2 separate regions of the Homo sapiens genome follow, and region 2 is linked to region 1. The links come from fine-mapping of genetic effects on gene expression. A gene starts in region 1. The other region holds a variant in brackets. All regions are shown on one strand. Distances are from middle to middle.

Region 1 (9,879 bases):
TTGATGATGTTCTCTCACCGTAGAATGTAGAAAAGTTTTAACCAAAGAGAAACCCTATATTTTCACTTGGTATTAGGTTTTAGATTCCGGAGGAAGGGCCTGGAAAGAAGGGCTATGGGGTTTATTTGTGTTGCCTACTTATAAGTTTTCTTTTAAGCAATAATATATTCAGTTAGAGGCTATTTTGAGAGTTCAATCGTGTCCTTTTCAAGAAAATGCAAAGCCAATGGAAAATTACAACTGAAATTTTTAACAAGAAAAACCACCACCATTTAGGAATTGGAGCACAGGATTTTTTTTTTTTTAATAAGCAAAACCATCTCAACGAGGCTGCTTTCTTCACTAAATTCAATAATAGCCAGCAAGTCGCTATTTTGTAGTCACTATTTACTAATCTTGATTTTTATAGGCACAGGCCTAGAATAAGAAAAAGATCCACTGCACAGCCCCACATTACCACATACCAAGATACTTTAAGGCAACTTTTTAAAAATGTAGAAAAAATTCAAAATCAGACCATAAATAAGTCTGTTTTGGCAGCAGATAAAGAAGGGAATGAAAAAAAAAATAAAGCCCTATTTCTCATTTCATTTGCAATAAAAACCATTTAAGAAAGCTGTGACGTGCCCCCAGAGGTTTAATTGTAGTTATATAGCCTGATTAAAGCCAGTAGAGATTTCTACACCAATTTACTGACGCATTTCTAGATCGCCACACTCACAAGGCTAGCACCCGGAATGCTCTGGTGAAACAAACAGCCTAGTGTATAACGCTCATAGAACAGTGCCTTGCACACAGTAAGCACTCATAAAATCTTAACTATTATTTTTATCCAGTCACCAAGGTAAACTTCCTGCTTCCGGGTCCAGCCTCAGCCATACAGTAAAGTAACATTTGAGTCAGTCTTCAATGACAGAAGTGTAGGCTTAGAAAAGAGTGGCAGAGGCTCAGACAGCTTAGGTTACTCATCCTGGGGGTGGGCGGTGAGGGGGTGGTTGCTGAGGAAGGCTGTGCGGGTGCCTGAACCACCACTTCCTTGAAGCATTCTTGGATCATCCCAATTCACGCCAAGCTCTTTCCTTGCATTTTAAATCTGCCCCAGCATATTTAACACTTGCCATTCCCCTTCTATTTTATATAATTTCAACATTTTTGAGAAGGGGTCCTGCTTTAAGCTTATCTTAAATCCTCCCATGATCTCACTCCTGGACACATGGCTGGGACTGGATTTGTAACATTCTACACTGGAGAAGGTTGGAGTCCTAGACCACAGAGAAGATGGCCAGCTGAGTCCAGAATAGGTGTGCTGTGTGGACAAGACTTGGTCAACACGAAACAATAACCCCAGGCTGAAAACCACCAAATGCATCCTTCATCCCGGGCTCTTGTTTGGGCCGTTTGCAGAATGGTCTGTGGAATTAGAGAAGTCAGTCTACCATGTCTCTGTAGTTCTCTGTTTCACGGTCCCTCCCCGCTTAAGGGCCTGCCTTTTGTTTTCTCATAACAGGAGAGGCATTCAGCTTCACCTGTGCAGGCAGGCACGCAGTCCAAACCTGACATCACGGGGAAACATCACCAAGACCAAAAACAGTGAGGATATTTGAGATGACAAACCCAGACCACAGAAGGCCAACTGCTTTTAAGAAGTTGCAGGCTTCTCATGCTAAGCAGGGAAGGGATTGTTTACAGTTGCTGGAAAAAAAAATACCCTGCAAACAAACAGCCAGCTGCTTTGCTAGGAGGCTACCAAATGATTCCTAAACGCTGACTCAAAGGACCACAGGTGGTCAGTATATCAATGACTATTTGCGGTAATGATGATGGATGTGACAGCTCCAGCTCAGGTGTGAAATGGGAAGAAAAAGAGGCTCATGAACAGGACACGGGAGGGGGGCTGTGCAGGAAACCACCTGATTCCAGCCCAGTCTAAACTTTTGTGGTAAGTTAAGACCATCTTCAGGTCTTCCATACTGTGAAGACAGAGATACCACTATTTCTAAAGGAGAGTGACACCAGTTTCTCTCCTGATGCCGGTATAGGGTATTTTAAAACAAATTTTAAATTTTTATTTATTTTTAGAGACAGGGTCTCGCTCTGTGGCCCAGGCTGGAGCGCAGTGGCACAGTCATGACTCGCTGCAGCCTTGAACTTCTGAGCACAAGCCATCCTCCCACCTCAGCCTCCCGAGTAGGGTAAGTATTAATACGACCCTACATTTTAAATCTTCTGCTGAACTCAATCATCTGTTCTCCACTGAGGAGCATCCTGCAATTATATTTGGGTGAGCAGCTCTAACATGACTCTTCAGACCCTTTCGGCACTTTTCTAGAAAGAACCTGAACTTGTATACAGAAATAAAGTACCAACATATTAGATCATTGTCCTTAGGAACAAGGAGGAAGGAAGGAAGGTTCCCATTTTGTTGAGGGAGAATAATTTAGGCATAATTGGTAACTCCAGTCGATAAAAGACATAGTCTGTCAATAGCAGTTGGTCTTACTTTCCCGTAAATAAATTACTTGATTTTACGTAAATAAGATTTCCTTATGGTGGTCCCTAAACTCCCCTGGGACAGCCTCCAAGTAACTCCAACGTAAATGGTTATATGCTGGTGGTTAATACGCTCAAGTCTCTCCGGACAGACCCCCAGAATTAAATAATGTCTTTCTTTACATTGTGAGACAATGGGAATTTGATGCATTACAAATCACAAACAAATGGGAGGCACGGGAGTTCAAGTTGCCAAAATAACCACATTTTCTTGATAGTTTTCTCAAAATTTATTGCCAATGCTTCATCCAAGCAACGACTGGTAAATCTCAGTAAGCGGGAACCTGGCCCAGAAACAGAATTCTCCATTGAAGTCAATTTAAGGGTGCAGGGGCCCATGGTTTTAACCAAAGGTGGCAGGAAAAGGCTCCCAAGGGTGACTCTGGCTGCACCAGTCCATTCTGGAATCACTTTCATCGCCCCCGCTCACCGGGCTAAATGCTGAGAGTCTCTGAAAGTCAACTGTCGAGGTCAGGGGCTGAGAAATTCCAGGCTACCTTGCGTACTAGCCGGCGCTGGCATCGTTAGCCAAGCTGAGCAGGGAGCGCAGCGGACCTCAGGTTTCCCGCCAGACCACAGAGCTCAGGTGAGGCCTCGAATCCAGAGGCTCACCGGGGCCAGGCAGGCTTTTCGCAGCTGACAGGCACCCCTGGAAACGGAGTGCACTCTATACAAAGCAGACCGACCGAGAGGGCCACCGAGGAAACAGGTGCAAGAGCCCTGTCCTCCCAGAAGCAGAGCTCTTGTGGGATTCATCCCCTGCCCCCTTCCCTCCTTTGCACCTCTGCAGCCCCAAGCCTCCACCGCTCGCAAGTCCGCCCAGTAAGCGGCTGCCCCAGGGACCATCTGGCCGTCCCTTCCTGGTTACTCATCCTCCCGGCCACTTCGTGGTTGCCCGTGCCTGGGCAGGGCCTGGAAGCGCTCCAGGCGGGACCTTCGTCGGATCCCGTCACCTGTCGCGTCCACAGCGCTTGGGCGCTGGGAGCCGGGCCACCCCGCGGTGAAGGGGCTCAGCCCACCCGCCCGCGCCCCCACATGGGCAAAGTGCGCGACTCCGGTGTCCTTAAAGCAGGGACCACTAAAGCTGTGTGATTAAGTTTGAGCGAACGTTTGGGGACACGATCCGCGAATGTCATCAGACTCTCAGAGGGACCAGGTGTTCTGTAAGGAGTCGTGTCCACTTGGAGACACTGACCTTGAACAATAAGAGAAACCGAATTCCCTGTCTCCGGTGGTCCGAAGACCTCTGCAGAAATCGGGCCCCGTAGTCCCACCCTCCGGGTCAGGGTCTCCCTCCTCAGCCCGCTCCAGCCCTGCCTGCCCCTCATTCGCCGTCCCTGCGCCCCCCAGACCAGCCCGGGTCAGTTTCGCGGGGGCTGGAAGTTGGTAGCGGGTCCCCTCACCTGCTGAGGTCGCTCACGAAACTGCCGCTCTTCTCATCCAGGAAGCGCTTCCAGCCGTCGGCCGTCTTCACCCAGTTCTGCCCGGGGGACCGCCAGTCCTGCCCGAGGAATGGCATGGCACCGCGAGCGGACTAGACGGATGGGGAGACGGGGCCGGCCTGGTGGGCTCGGGGACGTGCCACCCGGGGCGGATGCTCGGGGTGCAGGGGCCCGCGACGGGGGCGGCGGGGCGGCGGGAACGGCGCGGGGCACCCTGCGGGGTGGCGGGCGCGGAGAGGATCTCAAGCGTTGCAGGCTCCGGGAGTGCTGCGCGGCAGTAGCTGCCGCAGTATTTATCCCCGCAGCCGGCCGCAGCTCTTTGTTGCCGGAAGAGCCGCCCGCTCTTAGCCCGGCCCCCCGGCCCGGAGGCCACGTGGCTTTGTTTATGGGCTCGGCTTGTTTTCCGAGGCGCCTGCGGCTCACGCTCCCCTCCCGGTTGCACAACCGCGCCGGTGGAAACTTGAAGCGGTGCTGCCGGGCCGGGTACCCCGCCGCCCCTGGCACCTCCGCGCGCCCTCCCCGCCCCCAGGACACCGTTGTCCCAGAGCGAGGCCCGGCGCTTGGAAAGATGCGCCCCGGTCTCCTGCAGCTCCCGGGCTGACGGGGTGCAGGGAGGGGGCCGGAGGGGCGTCTGGGTCCCTGCGGGGTGGGCGTGAGGAGCAGGGCCAGCCCCCCTCCTGCCCCCGAGCTATCAGGATCGACCTCCGCAGCCAGATCAGCCTCCCGGGCCGTCCGCAGAGCTGGGGCCGGCACCGCGCCCGCCGGGCGGGGAGTAGGGGGCGCAGCCTCCTGACCTCGCTCACTGCCCCAACCCCGCCCTAGCGCGCGGGGGTTGGAGCGGGGAGGAGGGACAGCCTCCCAGCCCTCCGGGCCCCTTAGCTGTCACTAACCAGTCCTCCTTCAGACCTGCCCCTGGGGCAGCAAAGGAGGGGAAGGAGAGGAAGCCCTGGGAGGTATCTGGCTCCCGCAGGTTGGGAGTGGAGAAAAAGAACAGCGCCCCTATCCTACCCGAACCCTCTAAGAGACGGGTTAAATGATGTACCCAGGGCCAATGCTACAGTACAATCTGAAACTACCCTGTTTGCTTTTACTTTTTGCTGTTGTTACAACAATCTACCCCTGTCTGCAGTGGGAACTCCATGAGAGCTGGTCTGTCTTGTTCCGGAGGCATTTCAGCCCCTGCACCCTGCCAGGCCCAGTGCAGGCCTTCAACAACTATTTGTGTGAATAAGTGAATGGATACGGGAGGCTGCTGGCATGAGGGTGGCTTCTTGCCCTTCATCACCTCTAGTTATGATGCTTTACAGCCTGGTCTATTTGGCAATTAGTTTGCACAGGACAGCAGCAGCAGAGTAAAAATCCCATACTCAAGCATTAGCTTCAAACTTCATTCTTCCATTCTTCTTTCTCTGCAGCCATCAATATCATCTAGTCCACTGACTCGGTGTAATCTTTAAGGCTCAGGCAAAGAAATTGTGTGTGCCCTATGAGGCTACATGTTGGACTGGGAAGACGTTTTTAATAAAGTTTGTTTTCAAGAAGCCAGAGCTTTCTGATTTAGATTTCCCACCGTAAATAATTTATTAGTGTAGTAATAGTAAAAAAAAAGCTTGTAAAAACATTGAAGAAGTCCCAAACAAATGTTAAACACTGTGATGGTGCTAACAAATGAGGCAGTGTTGGGTCTGGTCTCTGTTGGAGGGAATTGGTATCTGCATAATTAAGGGATGTGATTATTATTATTATTATTTTTGAGACAGGGTCTCATTGTGTCACTCAGGCTAGAGTGAGTGATCATGGCTCACTGTAGCCTCAGCCTCCCCAGCTCAAGCCATCCTCCCACCTCGGCCCCAGTCTCCAGTAGCTGAGACTACAGGCACTCACCACTGCACCAGGCTAATTTTTTATATTTTTTGTAGAGATAGGGTTTTGCTATCTTGCCCAGGCTAGTCTTAAACTCCTGGGCTCAAGTGATCCTCCTTCCTTGGCCTCCCAAAGTGTTGGGATTACAGGCGTGAGCCACCATGCCCGCCTGGGATGTGATTATGAACAATGTGGGTTAGTTATGTATTAGTAAGCTGGCTACATACCTGTAGAGACCACAGAGGGCCAGAAGGTAGAAGTTTTGAATTCTAATTCTGCTGGAGCAGCATACTACCTGTCCTCCCTTGGATGAATGACTTAAACTCTTAGGGCCCCATTTACTTAACTGTCAAGAAAAAATGGAGCCAATAATGCCTACCTTTCAGGATGGTTTAAAAGCTGTGGTAGATTGAATTATTAGTACCCATTCTTCCCTCCTTTCCAGTAGCGTCATGTGCCCACACTTTTTGGTGATGTGTATTTTTCTAATTCTTGACAATGGGCTTGGCCATATGACTGGCTTTAGCCAAGGGGATGCTGATGGATGTGATGTGAGCAGAGGATCTGATGTATGTACTTGCCTGGTTGGTCTTGATGTTTTGTGTGTTCACCTGCTCCATGAAAAGAGCATACCCTGTGTAGCCACTGCTCCTGGAGTGGTTTGAGTGACATCCGTGTGTCCCAGGATGTGACACATGGAGCAGACACTCCCGTTGACCTCACAGATGTGTTAGCAAGAAATAAATGTGTCTTGTTGATGCCACTGAGATTTTTGTGATTTACTGTTACACAGCATTATTGTGTCGATAGCTGACTACTATAAAGGGTTGAGTGGCTCAAAGTTGGTGAAAGTTTCTTTAACTTCTAAAATTCAAGCACAAATAGGAAATTACAATTATTTTTGTCCTTGTCTTTTTGTCTAATAACTAATCTTAGGAAGCCTCAGTGTTTGTCTCTAGTCCTTCCGCTTTCTGTTCCTTAAAACAAACAAACAGAATTGTTGCTATCATATCTTAATGCAGGCTTCTTCTGAAGTGTGATTGACTATTTCAGATTTCTCTTACCATAAAAAAATCTAATTTGAGACTTCTTTTTTTTTTTTGAAACAGAGTCTTGCTCTATCACCCAGGCTAGAGTGTACCGGTGCAATCATGGCTCACTGCAGCCTTGAACTCTTGAGCTCAAGTGATTCTCCTGCCTCAGCCTCCTGAGCAGCTAAGACAACAGGCGTGCACCACCATGCCTGGTTGATTAAAACATTTTTTTTTTGGAGAGATGGGGTCTTGCTATGTTGCTCGGGCTGGTCTCAAACTCTGGCCTCAAGTGATCCTCCCGCCTTGGCCTCCCAAACTACTAGGAGTACAGGCATGAGCCACCATGCTCAGCTGACACTTATTTAAACATGGTTTCTACTGGGAAGTTTTGTAATGCTGGACCCCTCAAGATAAAGAACTTGCTAGGCTATGTCCAGAACAGTTACCTTCAAATCAGATGGGGGCTTGAACTTTGTAAAGACTCTGTGATTGTAAGCCCTATCATAGCTGAGCATTTGAGAATCACCAAAAGCAAAATATCAATGTTATAGCTTCAGGCTGAAGACATAGAGACAGATAGATACTCAGAGAATTTCACAAGGCACAGCACAGACTGGTCAGGACCCCATGTAGCCTAATGGTGTGTGCAGTGTACATGATGTATGTACCATGGCTGTGTGTTTCATTGCTTAGACACTTAGCTACTGCCTTTCCTGCACTGTTTTGTATAACACATTACCCAGATTACATACTGGGTGTTTGATTTTTTGTGTTTTCTTCTCCTGTCTAGGACTGTGAGCTCCTTGATGGCAGGGCTGTGTCTTAGGAGTTTAGTGCCACAGTGTCTAATAAGGTTCTTGGTACACGGTACATTTACATCAACAAATCAACAAATGGGCCCAACGCGGTGGCTCACACCTGTAATCTCAGCACTTTGGGAGGCTGAGGCAGGTGGATCACCTGAGGTCAGGAGTTTGAGACTAGCCTGGCCAACATGGTGAAACGCCATCTCTACTAAAAATATAAAATTTAGCCAGGCGTGGTGGTGGGTGCCTGTAATCCCAACTACTCAGGAGGCTGGGGCAGGAGAATCGCTGGAACCCGGGAGGTGGAGGTTGCAGTGAGCTGAGATCGCGCCACTGCACTCCAGCCTGGGTGATAAGAGTGAGATTCCTTCTCAAAAAAAAAAAAAAAAAAATCAACAAATGTTGTTGAACTGACCTGGAAGGCTGTTATTCCCATGTCTTTACCTGTTGACATTTTATTACTTCTAGGGACATAGCAGGGTGGAGCAAAGGGAGGGTTGGCAGCCCCCAGTCCTACCTCGTATAGCTGCATTCTCCAATAGTGATGCTTTATGGGTTAGTGAGGCAGATGGGGAAGGTAGTCAAAAGGTGGTATCTTAGAAAAAATATGTTTTAATGTCCTATTCCATTGATGATAGATGCCTGCCATGCTGAGGACAGTGTGCCAGTCACTTCACAAACACAATCCTGTTACATACTCCTCATAAACCTGTGGGCTAGGAATTGCTATTCCCATTTTATAGATGAGGAAACTTCAGCTCAGAAAAGTTGAATAGCCTGCGTGAGATCACCTAGCAAATGTGGTGGGACTCCAACTGGTACCCAGGCTTATCTCTAACCCTGACTAGAGCCAGACTCACTGGGTTCAAATCACATTCCCCACCTAAAAAGCTGTGTGATCTTGGGCAAGTTACTTAACATCTCTGTACCATACTTCCTTTATTTGTAAAATGGAAATAATGATAGTACCTACCTCAAAGGGTGTTTTGAGGATTTATTGAGATAATATGTATGAAGAACTTCTAACAGTGCCAATGACAATGGGTCTTTATTGTCATTATCTTTATGCAAAGTTTACACCTCCATCTTTTACTCGGTTAAGCCATGTCCACCTTCCCCATCAAACTGTAAGTTTTGAGGGCATGGAGCGTAGCTCACTCAGCAAATTTCCAGATGTGGGACAAATGTGTCTATTGGGGTACAAGTATAATGAAATAATTCCTTGCATCTTACTTGAACTATGGAAATGGGCCTTATTCTGTAGAACATGTGGAAGATTATATTTTCTTTTTCTTTTCTTTTCTTTTTTTTTTTCTGAGATGGAGTCTCACTCTGTTGCCCAGGCTGGAGTGCAGTGGTGTGATCTCAGCTCACTGCAACTTCCGCCTCCGGAGTCCAAGCAATTCTCTGCCTCAGCCTCCCGAGTAGCTGGGATTACAGGTGCCTGCCACCACACCCAGCTAATTTTTTTTCTATTTTTTTGTATTTTTTTGAGACGAAGTCTCACTCTTGTCCCCCAGGCTGGAGTGCGATGGCGTGATCTCGGCTCACTACATCCTCTGCCTCCTGGGTTCAAACGATTCTCCTGCCTCAGCCTCCCGAGTAGCTGGGATTACAGGCACCTGCCACCATGCCTGGCTAATTTGTGTATTTTATTTTATCTTTTTTTAGTAGAGACGGGGTTTCTCCATGTTAGCCAGGCTGGTCTCGAACTTCTGACCTCAGACCTCAGGTGATCCGCCCGCCTTGGTCTCCTGAAGTGCTGGGATTACAGGCGTGAGCCACCGCACCTGGCCTTTTTTTGTATTTTTAGTAGAGATGGGGTTTCACCATCTTGGCCAGGCTGGTCTTGAATGCCTGACCTCGTGATCCACCCGCCTCAGCCTCCCAAAATGCTGGGATTACAGGGGTGAGCCACCGTGCCTGGCTAGAAGACTGTATTTTCAAAGGTACACACAACATAAATTTAGCCCGTCCACTTCCTCATAAGACTGTTTACAGAAATTGTTTGTAGAAAGGACTGTGAAAAAAACATTTTGTTGCTTCTAAACCAAAATGACATTCGTTTATAGCTTTGGCTGAGGGACTGACTACTTCTCACTGAAGTGCAATGATATTTTGTTTTTTCATAGTTTCTCTTTCTGAAAGGGTTTTTTTTTTTTGGTGAAAAATACTTATCAGCAG
Region 2 (8,000 bases), 25 kb before region 1:
AGCAGCAGATCAGAAAAGACCAGACTCTTCCGTCACAGGAGTGAATTCAAAGTCTTGGCGAGTCTGTCCAGTATCCCTGTGGAGGGACCCACTGCCGGGAGGAGGCTGGGCCTGCCCGCTTACCCTGGTGATCTGAATGTTGTTCAGCTGCTGCTGCCAGTGGAGAATCGTCTCCATCCGATACACCCACATGTTAATGTTCCCGACCAGCACAGACTTGCCGACTCTTTGGACCAGTGTACATAAGGATGTGTAGAGGGTCTGGAGTAGTTCCCTTATTAGTCTAATGTTTTGCTGGTCTTCAAGGACTTGAGTAGGGAAGAAAAAAATAATTAAAGTTATGATACTGGAACACCCTGTATTTTACACATGAGCTTGTCTCTGTCTGTATTCCACTCATGTTACCCAGGCACTGCCTCTGGGGATATGGTTTTCTTCCTCACCAGTGTTTATTGTACGCTTGGCCAAGCTTCTGCACTTGAGGTTAAAGGGTAGAGTTTCCATTATCTAGGTCCCTCTTTGTTCTCTTCTCTCTCATTTTCTATAAAGCCTCTTTCTCTTTTCATTGTTCTCCCAGCAGCCATGGTTCACCTGATCAGAAAGCCACTCCTTTTGCCCAGAAGTGACCCCGTTTAGGACAGTCAGTGGAAGGAGCATGGTTTCAGGGGTTTGGAGCCTGGGTTCTAATCCTGTCTGGCTGACTCTCTGTGTGATTATGGACAAATCACTTCTCCTCATGGGCCTCAGTTTCACCATGTGTACAATGAGTCAGTTGAACCAGAGACCTAAGGTTCCTTCTAGCTCGAATAGTCTACGAATCTATTCTGACTTTGTACACATGTCGATTTTCTAGGAATTTGGGACCCGGAGGCTCGGTAGCCAGTGTTGGGACCTGTGTCTACACTGAGAAGCCTACGAGGCTTATAGTAGGGCAAGTGGATGGTCCCAAAGAAAGGACAGGAGGGTGATGGTCTCACCCTTTGCCATGAGGATGAGTTGTACCCCTTTCCGAACTGGAATTTAGTGTCTCTAAAATGTAGCTGGAGTTATTCATTTCCATCCATTCACATGTCTTTAAGTCTAATGACACGTCCACTTCATTGGAAAATCCATCTGCCCACCTCCATGCCTATAAAAAGGGGCGAGAGAGTGAGAGAAGGCTCACCTTTCAGTACCACTTTTTCCAAAATATTCATGAAGTTCTTTTGGGCGATGCCACTCAGGGATGTGAGCTGTGACTTTGCTATCAGCTCCAACAGCTGAGGATAAAAATAGAAGTTGCCAGGCTTAGAGTACAGAGATATTTTTCTCCTCTAATCTTCACTTTTGAGTCCCATGACACGTGGATACAGACTGACGGGGAGAGATAAATGGCAGGCAGGGCCACAATGCAATAAAAAGCAGATGCTCAGAGTGAAAGATAAATGGGGTAATTCAAAACCCAGGATTGGGTTGAATATTTAATTGCTTTTCTTCTTTTAAATATAAAGAATTTTGGCTTCAGCCAGGGCTAATTCAATCTACTTGTCCTACTTCAGCAAGTGAAGCTGACGTACCCTGAAGGGAACAAAATCTCCCATGACCTGTGAATGGCTGAGTTCTGCAGAATCACCTCCCGGGGGAATTCTTCTGCCCCCGCTTGAACTTCTTCCTTATTGGCACTGACTGCTCTCAAGGCACCTAAAGCCCATCTTCAGCAGCCATGTGCACTTTTTCCATGGAAGTGGAGAGTCTTATCCTGATACCTCCTGCTTCTGCAGTGTTCAATAAACATGTCTATTAATTAGACTCTTTCACTGCACTTACATTTCTGTAGAAAGACGCCAATCACAGGAAGAGAGAGAAATTCAGGGATGTATTTTATATGATGTCACTGTGGCTAAAAACTTGGATCCTTGTAGCTCTTGGCCTTAGATTCAGGTCTTGATTTGAACATGTATTAGCTCCGTGATGATGGGCAAGTTACTATATTTCTTGGTGCCCCACCCAGTTTGTTCATCTATACTAATAATATTTAGAGTCTTTAATACAAGGTTGAGTATTTAATACCTTTAATACAAGGTAGAGTCAATAATACAAGGTTGTTGTGAGTGATAATAGGAGAATGCACATAAAGCCCTCAGCAAGTACCTGGCACTAATTAGGTGCTAAATAAAGGGTTTTCTTTGTTTTGTTTTTTGAGACGGCATCTTGCTCTGTTGCCCAGGCTGGAGTGCAATGGTGCAATCTCAGCTTACTGCAACCTCCGCCTCCCAGGTTCAAGTGATTCTCCTGCCTCAGCCTCCTGAGTAGCTGGGATTACAGGCATGTGCCACTACGCCTGGCTAACAGTTTTTTTTTTTTTTTGTATTTTTATTGGAGACAGGGTTTTGCCACGTTGGCCAGGCTGCTCTCGAACTCCTGACCTCAGGTGATCCACCTGCCTTGGCTTCCCAAAATGCTGGGATTACAGGCATGAGCCACCGCGCCCCGCCAGTTTGTTTGTTGAAAAAGTATGTCCCATTCCTACCAACCCCATAATTGCCAGACAAAAATAAATGAAGATAATAACTGAAGTTAGTGCGTACTTAGTCCAATCTTTTTTACCTTCTATAGCAAAATTCTTTACTGACATGGCAAGATTAAAAAACAAATAAAGGCCAGGTGCGGTGGCTCATGCGTGTAATCCCAGCACTTTGGGAGGCCAAGGCAGGTAGATCACGAGGTCAAGAGTTCAAGACCAGCCTGGCCAACATGTGAAACTCCATCTCTACTAAAAGTACAAAAAATTAGCCGGGCATGGTGGCACATGCCTGTGCTCCCAGCTACTCAGGAGGCTGAGGCAGGAGAATTGCTTGAAGCCAGGAGGCAGAGGTTGCAGTGAGCCGAGATCGTGCCATTGAACTCTCGCCTGGGCAACAGAGCAAGACTCCATCTTAAAAAATAAAAAATAAAAAACAAAGATCCTATTGTTGAAAAATGAAACTTTAGACTGGAAGGAATCTTAAGAGACCATCTAGTTTAATCCACTTAACAGATGAGCAAAGCGAGGCTCAAGAGACCCACCTTATGAGCCACTCCACAACTAGTGAGGACTCAGCAGAGTCCTTCTCAACACAGGAAAATATCACACTTCATGCTTTCAAAGAGTTAACAAACAAAAGAGGTTGATATAAAGTGAAAGTAATTAACTTCACGAGAACCCACCAGGCCCCCAGAGAAAACTATTAGGCTGGTGCAAAAGTAATTGTGGTAATAACTAGCCTGAGACTCAGTAGACTAGACACAGAGAACCGAGACCCCTCCTTTACACTGAAGCTAGAATCTCCGCTCCTAGGAAACTTTCTAAGAGAGTTTCATCTCCTGGCCAGGCCTCAGCCCAGCTTCATTTCAGATCAATAAACACTGAGCATGACACTGTGGTGGGTGCTGGAATCAAGGCTGAGGGAAGAAGCAAAATGAAATTTTAAAGATTGGGTTGCAGAGGAGAATGGAAACTTTTGGATCAACGGCCTAGGCAATTCAGAGCACCTCTGCTTCCATGGCATTTGCATAACATGTTTGTCCCCGTGGAGCTCTTTAGGAGCCTGTTAAACCACACACAGACTTTTAATTTCCTGAATGTAATTTTACTTTACATATTAAAAAAAGCCACCCCCAAACCAAACTCCTTTTTCTCCCTGGCTTCTGTATCTTTTCCACATGCAGGGAGAGATGAGGCTAGCTGACTGGGAGGAGGAGGTGGTTTGTTGCAATTAGTACTGGTGATCTAGTTGGAAGTCAGGAGCTCACCGAGTGTCTGCTGAAAGAGGCGGGAAATCAAAACACCAGTAGAGACCATGGCCATGGGCGGTGACCACACCGAATGCTGTGGTTTAGCTTTGCCACCAACCAGCACGTGACAGTCAAGAGAGGAGTGAAAATGGCACAAAGGGACTGGCCAAACCTTTCATTTACCTCCCTGACCAACAGCAAGATTCGGAAGGCCAAGATGATGGTCTATTAATACCCTGATCCTCACATGACCAACATGAAGCAGATGAAAGAAAACAAAAGCCTCGGGTCGGCTTTTGAAGGGCAGTCAGCTGTGCACTGTGACTCATCACTGGGTAGGAGGTGGGGCAAGGGGTTGGGAGGAAGGCAGCCAGAGCTCTGCCTGAAATCCATCCAAAACCCAGATTCCATGTGACTACCATCTCATGAGGGTGTCAGTTTTAATCTTGTCAAAATATGCACCAATCACAAGGACAAGTAAACTCTCAACACTATGACTGTGCACTGGAGGAGAAACGAACTGTCTTTGGTCTGATTATCTTCTCTAAGGAGAAGGAGGAATATAGCAGCAAAAATTTGTCAACTGACAGCATAACGACATGTTAACCATTCTGTGCTTCATCCTATCTCAAGGGAAAGTCCCCCC[T/C]ACCTTTTTTTTTTTTTTTAACTGTCAGACAGCTGTGGAGTCAGGAGAAAGAACCCTGGAAGAGGAGAAGACCTGGATTCTCTAGCTGGGTGACCTTTGTAACTGTCATTCATTTAGCAAGTATTTTCTGAGTGTCCACCCTGTGCTAGCATCGTGGTAGGTGACAGGGACATGATGATGAAGACACATGATCCCTACACTCATGGAGTTTGCTCTTCAGCCTAGAGTGTAAGTCATTTAATCCCTCTGAACTCCTGATTCTTCATTTCTAAAATGGAAATAAAAAGACTACTTACTTCACAGGATTGCTATGAGAATTAAGTAAGATAAATATGTACAAATCCACAGTAAATACCAAACATAAGGCATTTTTATTATAAGATATTATTTCTTTCCCTTTAAACTCCAGTCTTTTTGTGAAGTTTAAAGTTGACATCAGGGGTTAGCAAACTTTTTCTGCAAAGTGCCAAACAGTAGGTGTTTTAAGGTTTGTGGGCCACGTGGTCTCTGTAGCAACTACTCCACCCTGAAGCTATAGCACCGAAATGGCTATAGACAATGTGTAAATGAGTGGGCATGGGTGTATTCCAATAAAACTTTATTTACAAAAGCAGGTGGAGGGCCAGATTTGGCACCTGGGCTATGTCACAGTTTCTGGTATATATCATAAGAGTTTAAGAGTGAGGGCTCCAGAGGCAAACTGTCTGCCTCAGTTTTCCCATCTTCAAAATATGCACAGTAATAGTACCTACTTCAAAGTTGCTGTGAAGATTAAATGTATTCACATAGCACTCATAACTGTGCCTGCTACAAAGAATATACTCGATAAATTATTATTGTTAGCTTTTACCATAATACAGAGCATTACCAAGTAAAATTATTGCCAATCAGGAAATAGTGAGTTAACAGGGCAAAGTGCAACCCATTTAAAGACCTTCAGAATTGCTGTATTTCAATTGTAGCTGTTGTCAAACAAATAAATAAATGCTTTCACACTGTAATATTCCTTTCTGTCATTTTACTATGTTGGTGATACATTTAATAGCACCCTATCTGTTGATAAAAGTTAATGCTGATACATTTTATGACTTGCATAGTTTTTCTACCATGGAGTCTTATTTTGCTAACAATAACAATAACAATGGGGTGCTTACTATGTGTCAGCAACTGCAGCTAAGCACTATACATTTGTAATCTTGTTTATCTTTTACAGCAACCCAGTGAGATAGCTTCTCCATTTAACCATTGAGGATATTGAGGCTCAGAGAAGTACTCACCTAAAGCCATACCAGCAGTAGCAAATGCTGGAGCCAGGACTTGAGCCCAGATATGTCTAACAGAGAACACATTTTCTTTTTTTTTTGTTGAGACAAAGTCTCACTCTGTCACCTAGGCTGGAGTGCAGTGGCACAGTCATGGCTCACTGTAGCCTTTACCTCCGAGGCTCAAGCTATCTTCCCACCTCAGCCTCCCAAGTAGCTGGGACCACAGGGGCACAGCACTATGCCTGGCTAATTTTTTTTATTTCTATTTGTAGAGACAGGGTCTTCCTAGTTACCCAGGCTGGCCTCGAACTTGTGGGATCAAGCGATCCTCGTGTTTCAGCCTCGCAAAGTGCTGGGATTACAGGCATGAGCCACTGTGCCTGGCAGAACATATATTCTGACAGTTTCAGGACTTCAGTTTGTCAAGGCCAATCAATTTGCATGGAGGGCCAAATTTTACTCCAAAATGGGAGCAATACCATTTATTGTTATGTTCTGGGGAAACAGAGTCTAGAAAATTTTATATAATATTGGGCTGGGCGTGGCGGCTCACGCCTGTAATCCCAGCACTTGGGGAGACTGAGGCAGGCGGATCACGAGGTGAGGAGATCGAGACCATCCTGGCTAATGGTGAAACCCCATCTCTACTAAAAATACAAAAAATTAGCCGGATGCGGTGGCGGGTGCCTGTAGTCCCAGCTACTCAGGAGGCTGAGGCAGGAGAATGGCGTGAACCCGGGAGGCAGAGCTTGCAGTGAGCTGAGATCACACCACTGCACTCCAGCCTGGGCGACAGAGCAAGACTCCATCTCAAAAAAAAAAAAAAAAAAGAAATTTTATATAATAATATGTTGTGACTGGTAAACAACTTTTAATATTAAGGGCACTGTAATGCTCAGAAAGTGCTACCAGCACATTTAGGATGAGGCAACTGCTTTGGGTAAACCACAGAGTCTACTTTCCACATCAGCATCACTCTATAGGCCCAGAGCTACTACTAGGTAGTGATGTATGGAACTAGTAGTGAAGAGAGCAGAATTTACCGATTTTTAAATTTTTTAATTTTTGAGACAGAGTCTTGCTCTGTTGCCCAGGCTGGAGTGTAATGGCGTGATTTCGGCTCATTGCAACCTCCACCTCCCAGGTTGAAATGATTCTCCTGCCTCAGCCTTCTGAGTAGCTGGGATTACAGGCACCCGCCACCACACCTGGATAATTTTTGTATTTTTAGTAGAGATCGAGTTTCACCATGTTGGCCAGGTTGGTCCTGAGCTCCTGACCTCAGGTGATCTGCCTGCTTTGGCCTCCCAAAGTGTTGGGATTACAGGCGTAAGCCATCGCGCACAGCCCAAATTTATCGATTTTATTTGTGTTAAGAGAGCTGCGTGCCTAGGAAAGTAGGTTTGTATCTAGCAATCTGTGTACCAGGATGACTTAGCCAATTGGATTCTTTGCCCCTAGCCACAAGAGAAAAAAAGAACAGAGGAAAATGTCTTGTTTGGAAGTGGCTGCTTGTTTTTGACTGGGCAAATTTTAGCCCAGGTGCTAGTAATTTGTGGCTATGTTTAAAGAGAGGCAGGGGGAGGGAAGGGGAAGGAGGAGGAGGCTTCTCGGCTCCTCTGGAATTCCGTGGTGTCATTATCGTGTGGGCACTCTGGGCATCCGGCATGATCTGCAGTGACGAGCCGTGCAGTACCAGGAATGGCTCTGAGCTACTGGAGGGAGGGATGGTGGTCACCGCATGCTGAAACCACATCCTGCCCTTCAGCTTTGGCTCATGCTAGTTCTGGAGGCAACGAATAGGAGACAAATCTAGTTGCAAGCAATATCGTATAGCAAATCTCAGAGCGGATATCAACCAAAGTTTGAAGTGGTGTGTGCAAGACGAATGGGCAGAAGAGAGATTTCCCTCTTATCTCACTGCTCTCGTATCAAGAGCAGGCTTCTTACGTCTTCTTCCCTACAGTTTATTTTAGCATAGCATTCATAGTTTTAAAAATCCATCAGTTCACGTTACTTCTTTGCTTAAAATCCTCAAATGGCTTCTCCTTGCGCTTAGGAAAAAACTCAAGCTCCTTACCATGACTGGCAAGGTTCTCCCTGATCTGGTTTCTACCCCTTTTCCAGCCTAGTTTTGCACAAATTCACTCTGCTCCGGCTACACAGGTTATTCGTCTCTCGAATAGGCCAAGCTTATTCTCACCTCTGGGCCTTTGCCTCTGCCACATCTTTACATGCTCGGCTCCATCCCATCCCTCAGGTCTCAGTTCAAACGTGGCCTGCCCCGGGCTCAGAGGGCCCTTCCCTGGCCATCTTATGCAAAAACCTCCCTGTTG

What was found. PIP is the estimated chance that this variant, and not a neighbour inherited with it, causes the effect.
Region 2: its variant is fine-mapped to the expression of FBXO32 in blood mononuclear cells (TOPMed, PIP above 0.99).

Annotation. Positions count from the first base shown.
Region 1 is chr8:123,536,946-123,546,824 of GRCh38, forward strand. It overlaps FBXO32 (F-box protein 32), which reads right to left and starts at 4,261. Exons shown (of 9, transcript NM_058229.4): 1 at 3,954-4,261. The coding sequence starts at 4,069. RefSeq lists silencers at 4,158-4,247, 4,298-4,407, 4,498-4,787.
Region 2 is chr8:123,513,075-123,521,074 of GRCh38, forward strand. FBXO32 (F-box protein 32) reads right to left here. Exons shown (of 9, transcript NM_058229.4): 5 at 1,166-1,259; 6 at 124-308. Among named protein-coding and RNA genes, the nearest start is that of FBXO32, 24 kb to the right of the region's middle. The variant T/C (reference allele first, on the strand shown) is at 4,400.